2 linked regions of the Homo sapiens genome follow. The protein of the gene in region 1 interacts with the protein of each later gene in a pairwise test. Each region holds a gene or a part of one and is shown on either strand. Other genes may lie near its edges.

Region 1 (3,600 bases):
TGAGGTCAGAGTGACAGCTGTGCCATGCAAATTGTTTACAAAGCACTCACACCTGTTTCTCCTTTTAATCTTTTGTTTCTGAGATGGAGTCTGGCTCTGTCACCCAGGCTGGCATGCAATGGCGCGATCTCGGTTCACTGCAATCTCCGCCACCCGGGTCCAAGCGATTCTCCTGCCTCAGTCTCCTGAGTAGCTGGGATTACAGGTGCATACCACCATGCCTGGCTAATTTTTGCATTTTTAGTAGAGACGGGGTTTCACCATGTTGGCCAGGCTGGTCCAGATATATGATCTAGATCTTATACCAACTCCTGATCTCATGATCCACACTCCTCAGCCTCCCAAAGTGCTGGGATTACAGGCGTGAGCCACCGCGCCCAGCCTCTCCTTTTAATCTTGACTTTCACAAATACCTGGTGGCAGGTGTCATTTCCCCATTCTACACGTACCTGAGGCTCAGAGTGAGACAGCGACTCACCCAAGATCTCCCAGCTACAAAATGGCAGAGCCTGGGCCTGAGCTAGCATGGTCATGGGCTGGAAGAGCCACAATCCATGTTAAGGCACCTGGGTTTGGAGACTGCTGCCTTTTTTTTTTTTGAAACGGAGTCTCTCTCTGTCGCCCAGGCTGGAGTGCAATGGCCTGATCTCGGCTCACTACAACCTCCCTCTCCTATTTTCAAGCGATTCTCCTGCCTCAGGCTCCCAAATAGCTGGAATTACAGGTGTGCGCCACCGCACCTGGCCTTAGACTGCTGCTTTTTGAAACCAAAATTCTGGCCTGGAAACAGAGCTTGGTTTTCCCAGCCCCAGCCCTGCCGCTATGATACCAGAGGAAGAGGCTTCCCAGGGCCTCCGTTTCCTTGCCTGCACAATGTGGCTGGCAAGATTTGGTCTTCTCTCACAGGGTGGTGGTGAGCTTTCAAATCCTGTGAAAGTGATCTCACAGGAGAGCAGTGGACACGTGGGAAGGCTGTTATTGTCACGGCATTCTGCACATCTGTCCGGACTCAATTAGCCACCTAAGGAGAGAGTAGGGCGGGGCTTCCACCGGCCGTGGGATATGTGGATAATCATCCTTCTGTATCTTTCTTCCATGGCTCCTGGGGCAGCTGGGGAAGCAAGCTGGATGGGCCTGGCCCCATGCTGCCGGATGAGGTGGATGCCTGGCTGTGGCTCTGGGAGAGCCAACCTCCCCCAGGGAACCCACTTTACACAATAGCAGTGGCAGCAGAGGCTGGCGAGGAGACAAGATTCGGACTCTGGGGAGCACTGATAGCATTTCCCGAGCCTCAGGTACATGCGGACCGTGACCCTCCCTGGGACCCCAGGGGGGCTGCTCCTCAGGACTAAGGAAGGAGGAGGGGGTGTGAGAAACCTTTCACCATATACCATAGAAAGCATTTACCTCAATGGCCTTGGTTTACATATGGGGAAACTGAGGCACATAAAGGGAAGGGAGCATGTCCAGTCTGTCCTTAATAGCAAGACCCACTGAATACACCTCTCCTGGCTCTCTGTTTAGTGTTTGGACGTTCAAAGATCCCTAGACTAGGCGGCGGGAGTTTCAGGGCCACGATCCAGATCTTACACCAACTGTGTGTGGCCCCGCACAAAATCACTCCCCGCTCTTTGGCACTTAAGTTGGCGAAACTGGGATGGGCTGGGACCTCAAAGGGCCATTCTAGTAGGGGAGTCACAGGCCCAGGTGGTGAAGGGGTGAAAGGGCATGATGTCTTGGGGTTTATAGTCCACTGAGCCTCGCCGGAGGTAACCCCGGCTCAGGGATGCTTTCGTTGCCATGGCAACCGCCGGGCCGGCGCGGGCCCCTGAGTGCAGCTGAGGAAGCTGGGACAAACCCTGCCCTTCCCAAGATGGCGGCGGCGGCAGGGCAAAGGGCGGGGTTAGACGCTGTCAGCCTGTCCAGACCGTTCCTCTGTTTTCGCTTGTTCCTACTAACAGCGAGCTTCCGCCAATACTTGTTCTCGTTCTTGGTTCCGAGCGTCCCGGGAGCCGGGAAGGGAAGGATTGTCTGCAGGGATTGGAGCAAATATCCAGTGGGGGGAAAGCCGGGACTTCCGCGTCTTGCCGGAAGTGACGTGACAATCGCGGCCACCGCCAGGTGGAACGGCAGGTGGGTTCAGGTACCAGCCTGGCCGGGACCCGGCTGTGGGACCAACGCTTCCGGTGAGCGACAGAGGCAGCTCCCCAGGGCCTGGAGACCCGTGGGGCGGACTCTGGGATCTGAGCCTATCGCCCTGGCCTGGAGCCCCCCTTTGTACCTAGTAAGAATCACCTACCCAGCCCCCCACCCGGAGACTGTCCCATCCCACTCCAGAGGGAAGAGGAGGGCACTGCTGTCCCGTATGAGGTGGTGGAGGGAGGGGTGGCGTTGGCATTTAGGCACTTGGGTTCCTTAAATCCTATGCTCCTTTCTCTCCCGGATCCAGTTCCCCATTCCCCTACCGAGCTGGGCAGTTAGCCAGCCCACTCCAACTCTCGGAACCATGTTTGCAGACTTGGATTATGACATCGAAGAGGATAAACTGTGAGTATTTTATTCCCCCAAGTTCCAGCAGTATAGGAGCCCCAAGTTCCTCATTTCCCTGGACTTCCCAGTCCCACAGACCCTTGCTTCTCAGCGGTGGATCAGTTGTTGTACTGAAGCAGCAATGGACCCTGCTCTCCCAGGAGCTCACTATTTGTAGGGGGCTGTGGACAGTTAAAGGGATAATCACAGCTCAGTGCCATAAGGGCACTATTAGCATGACTTGGTGACAAGAAGAGCAAAGCAGATGGAGCAGTGCTTCTGCTGGGATGGTCAAGGAAAGCTTCATGGAGGACGTAGCAATTGAACCAGGTTTTGAAGGTTGAATAGGAATATTGTAGACACCCTTCCTTCCCAACATAGGTTGTTAGTAGGACAGATTTTCCCATTAGAATATATCCTCTTTCAGATCAAGGAGTGGGTGCAATGCCTTTCTCTATGCTCAGCACTTAGTAAGGGACTTGACGTCAGTAGGTTGTTAGCGAATGTTTTTTGAATGAATAAGTGAATCAGCGTGAGTACTTATCATAAAACACCAGTCAATGCTAATTTATAGTGGAAACCGAGAGGTAATCGAGCAGTTGAGAGGTGGGAGGTGGACAGTTTAATAGAGGAAGACTCCCTGGAGTAGGTGGCCATCATACTACATAGATGCCTGATAAGGTGACAAGGACAGAACCTGGCTCAAATCTCAGAGATCGAATAAATGAAAGGGAAGGGGGACCTATTTTTATGGAGTGCCTGCTATGGACTGGGTTGCTGTTAGTGCCCTCCATGCATGGTTAGAAGAACTCTGATAAGGGTGCTCATCCACATTTTATGGATGAGGAAATTGAGATGCACAGAGGCTGACTTACCCAAGTCCCATAGCTGGCCAGGCACGGTGGCTCACGCCTGTAATCCCAGCACTTTGGGAGGCTGAGGCAGGCGGATCAACTGAGGTCAGGAGTTCAAGACCAGCCTGGCCAACATGGTGAAACCCCGTCTCTACTAAAAATACAAAAAAATCAGCCAGGCGTGGTGGCAGGCACCTGTAGTCCCAGCTACTTGGGC
Region 2 (3,820 bases), on another chromosome or scaffold:
AGTGCTGGGATTACAGGTATAAGCCACCCTGCCGGCCTTCTGATAGTTTTTAATTTACAGTTTACAGTGTATTTCACTTTAATACATTCCTTATCTAAGATTGCCTTTGAGGTTTAAAATGTTGGAAGTTAATACCTTACATTGTATGTGCCTCTGAAGGTATCTGTAAATGATGTCCCATGTTATTATTTTTGCATTCCCTTAGAGGCAACATTTTATATAACAGTTGTCCAAAGGCCTAAGGCAGAGGATGTAATACTGGGTACTCACGGTATATGACGACTTTCCCAAATGGGAAATGAGCATGGAGGCTCTGTTTTCAGGCAGTCAGTTCTATCCTCATTTTCCTTGAGTAGAAGCATCCCTAAAATTGGCCTGAAAATGTGTCCTTGGGTCAGGGTGTAATGTGGGCTCTTTTCCAGTCTCCTTTCTTCCAATGACCTCTTCCCTACTTTACAAAAGAAAGGCATAATTCTTCCTCATGCTAAATCTTAGTAAGGTGCAATACCCGGTTATGCAAAAACCTCCAGGACACCAAAGAAAGGCACAATTGACTGGTGAATAAGAATGGGGTAACACATCCTTTCACAAGTCAGGTGGTTTTCAGTTGCTTGCTTTCAACAAGTTGAAAGAGAACCTAATCAGAGTTGTCAGCTGACAGATCATTAAAAGTATTTTTTCTTTGTTAGATCTTTATGCGATTTTTGGGCATATAATGCGAAAGGCATTCAAAGAATTGTGTGGCATTACTATAACAAAACTCCATTCATTCTCATCTGCTTTTTTTATGCGAACAAGTTTTCTCAACACTTATATCCATGGAATTGAAAACTTGGAATAGAACTGATGCTGAACTATTTCTCAAAAAAATCCATCCACTGAAGGTCATAATGTATATTAGAAAAAAGTCCACCCAAGTTCATTTCTGCAAGATGCATTGCCAATAAAATTTTGCTTTTGTGTTTAGTACTTACAAACATTTGAAATAGATTTGTTTTGATCGGTTGAAATAAGAGCTTTATGATCACAGAAAATATAAAAAACAACCCAGATACTTCAATTTATGTTCACATTTTTATTACAAGTAAGACGATCAAAATAGTTCAAATATAAAATATATTACTAGGATAAAATTCTAGAGGAGATATGCAACGTCAATATGAGTTCCAGAAAACAATATTTGGAAATTGTATTTTCCAAACTGTATTTTAAAAAAATGGATATTAGTGGGTGTTAAATCCCTATGGTATTTAGAATCCATTGGCTATACAGTATTTAAACAATGCGACAGATGAAATATTTATAAGCCGGAAAAATGTAGCTGTCATTCTAAACTGTATAAGAACATACACAGCTTTACGAAATTGTTTTAGAAGGCTCATGAAGTAAAAAGTTTGAGGACCCTGAACCAAGATGTTTGCTCTGGGTTCAGGATGTCAACATCTCCAGGGGTATTCAAACATAGGGTGTATTAAAACCTGTCGCCCTGTGTTGCGCATAAAAATTTAGTACCTTACACCGTAGTGTTTTAATTTTTGCCCATTTTAAACCGCTCTCTTCGTAGACTGTAGGCTCGTTCTATTCCTGGCTCAGCTCCTGTACAGAGGGGACACTCCTCAAACACCCCCGGAATGAATGAGTTTATCGTGAGAACTCGGAAGGCTGCTAAAATCCCCGGCCAGCGTTGGAGTTTTCAGTCCGCGTGTCCCTGGGCTTCGAAGCCCGGCAGGGCGTGGGAAGGCCCCGAGGAAACGCTGAGCACTTGCAGGCGCCGGGGCGGGGGCGGGGGCGGGCACTGGGCAGCGGGGCGGGCGCCGGGCGGGGGCGGGGGCGCAGAACCCGCAGCCGGGGGAGGTGCTGCCTCGTGCCGCCGCGCAGGCGCGCAGCAGTCTCCGTGTGAGTGCGCGTAGTCGCGCGCCTGTCCCCGCGCGGGCTCCGTAGCGCGTGTGCAGGCTGACGCAGCTCGCGGGCCCTCCTCCTGCTCTGCAGCGGCGTCGGCGGAGTTTTGGGCGTTTGGGAGGGGGGCGAGGGAGAGAGAGTCGAGAGAGGGAGGCGGCGGTGGGGAGGAGGAGGAGGAGGAGGAGCAGGCGCCGCCATGGCCGCCGCTATCACCGACATGGCCGACCTGGAGGAGCTCTCCCGCCTGAGCCCTCTGCCCCCCGGCAGCCCGGGTTCGGCGGCGCGGGGCCGGGCTGAGCCCCCCGAGGAGGAGGAGGAAGAGGAGGAGGAGGAAGAGGAGGCGGAGGCCGAGGCGGTGGCGGCGCTGCTGCTGAACGGCGGCAGCGGTGGGGGCGGCGGAGGCGGCGGCGGAGGAGTGGGGGGCGGCGAGGCAGAGACGATGTCGGAGCCGAGCCCCGAGAGCGCCAGCCAGGCCGGGGAGGACGAAGACGAGGAGGAGGACGACGAGGAGGAGGAAGATGAGAGCAGCAGCAGCGGCGGGGGTGAGGAGGAGAGTAGCGCCGAGAGCCTGGTGGGCAGCAGCGGCGGGAGCAGCAGCGACGAGACCCGCTCGTTGAGCCCCGGCGCCGCCAGCAGCAGCAGCGGGGATGGGGACGGCAAGGAGGGCCTGGAGGAGCCCAAGGGACCGCGGGGCAGCCAGGGCGGCGGCGGGGGCGGCAGCAGTAGCAGCAGCGTAGTCTCCAGCGGCGGCGACGAGGGCTACGGGACTGGGGGAGGCGGAAGCAGCGCGACCTCCGGGGGCCGGCGGGGCAGCTTGGAGATGTCGTCGGATGGGGAACCCCTGAGCCGCATGGACTCGGAGGACAGGTCAGTGCTCTGAAGCGTTTCCCCTTCCCTTCCTCCTCTTGAACTCCCGGGCCCCTCAGAGGGGGACCAAGGCGACGTTTTGCCGCGATCCCCCTGCTCCCCGAATCCTCGGCCCCTCCCCCAGACTCTCAACTCGGAAATCTCTCGCCGTCGCCGCCGCGCCCCTCTCGCAGCGCATCGCGGCTTCCAACTCTCAAACCGTTCCCCCCCAACTCTCCTTTCCCCGCCCTCTTTCCCCTCGGCGCTTCGCTCCTCACGGACCTCAGGACGGCTCTAACTCGGAAACAGTCCCCAAACGGGCCCAGATCCTCTGGCGGAGCAGAAGAGGGCCTTGATGTACACACGTCGGTACTCAAGGTTAGCTTCTTCCAACCGTGTTCGGGAACACTTGTCAGAACTACAATTGACAAGTGTTTCCAATATGGCTGGTCTCGCCTGGATTTAACAGAACTTCCTTGTCCATGGGAGAGACCCCAGCTATCACTTTTCTCTACTTAAACAAAAAAAGGACTGTTCTTTTATATTAAATCATTGCCTCCCAAATCCCTCATTTGTAGTCAGTCATGTGGTCTCCAACGTGATTTTAACAATCTTTTCTATTTGTTTTGGGAGCATATCTGGGAAAAAGTTTTAAACACGTATAAATGGTTGTGGAAAAGAATAGTGAATTGATGGCCTTTTAAGATAACTTTGCGGAATCAGAGAGTTGGAATCGTAACAAAATACAGTCTTGAAGGTACAACGTAGTTTGCGGCTTTATAGTAATGTTTCAACATGAGAGTCATGATTTTAAATGATAATATTTAAAGTCATGCATTGGAGAGGTCTCGGAAGGAATGAGTATTATTTTTCTTACTAAAGCTTGTTAGAAGTAACTGGAGAGTGACAAAAATGCGCATTTTTTCAGAACATTTAAAAAGTGTGATAGTGTATGTTTCAATTGTCTTATCATTACTTTTGATCTGTTTGGGTTAGTTGGTTTTTAATGTACTTTTAAAAAAACGAGAATCACATGCATATTATGCCACTTCTAAAGTGTATTAGCGTTTATTTT

The links. Proteins that work in one complex are often made in the same cells at the same time.
Region 2: the proteins of PICK1 (region 1) and AEBP2 interact in binary tests that used the Homo sapiens proteins (3 or more experiments, as listed by UniProt).

The regions. Positions count from the first base shown.
Region 1 is NC_000022.11:38,055,304-38,058,903, forward strand, and holds the start of PICK1 (PRKCA-binding protein), read left to right. Parts: upstream 1-2,100; 5' UTR 2,101-2,284; intron 2,285-2,449; 5' UTR 2,450-2,506; coding exon 2,507-2,547; intron 2,548-3,600. UniProt on the Homo sapiens protein: Probable adapter protein that bind to and organize the subcellular localization of a variety of membrane proteins containing some PDZ recognition sequence.
Region 2 is NC_000012.12:19,437,605-19,441,424, forward strand, and holds the start of AEBP2 (zinc finger protein AEBP2), read left to right. Parts: upstream 1-1,887; 5' UTR 1,888-2,095; coding exon 2,096-2,766; intron 2,767-2,994; exon of another isoform or gene 2,995-3,100; coding exon of another isoform or gene 3,101-3,123; intron 3,124-3,820. UniProt on the Homo sapiens protein: Acts as an accessory subunit for the core Polycomb repressive complex 2 (PRC2), which mediates histone H3K27 (H3K27me3) trimethylation on chromatin leading to transcriptional repression of the affected target gene.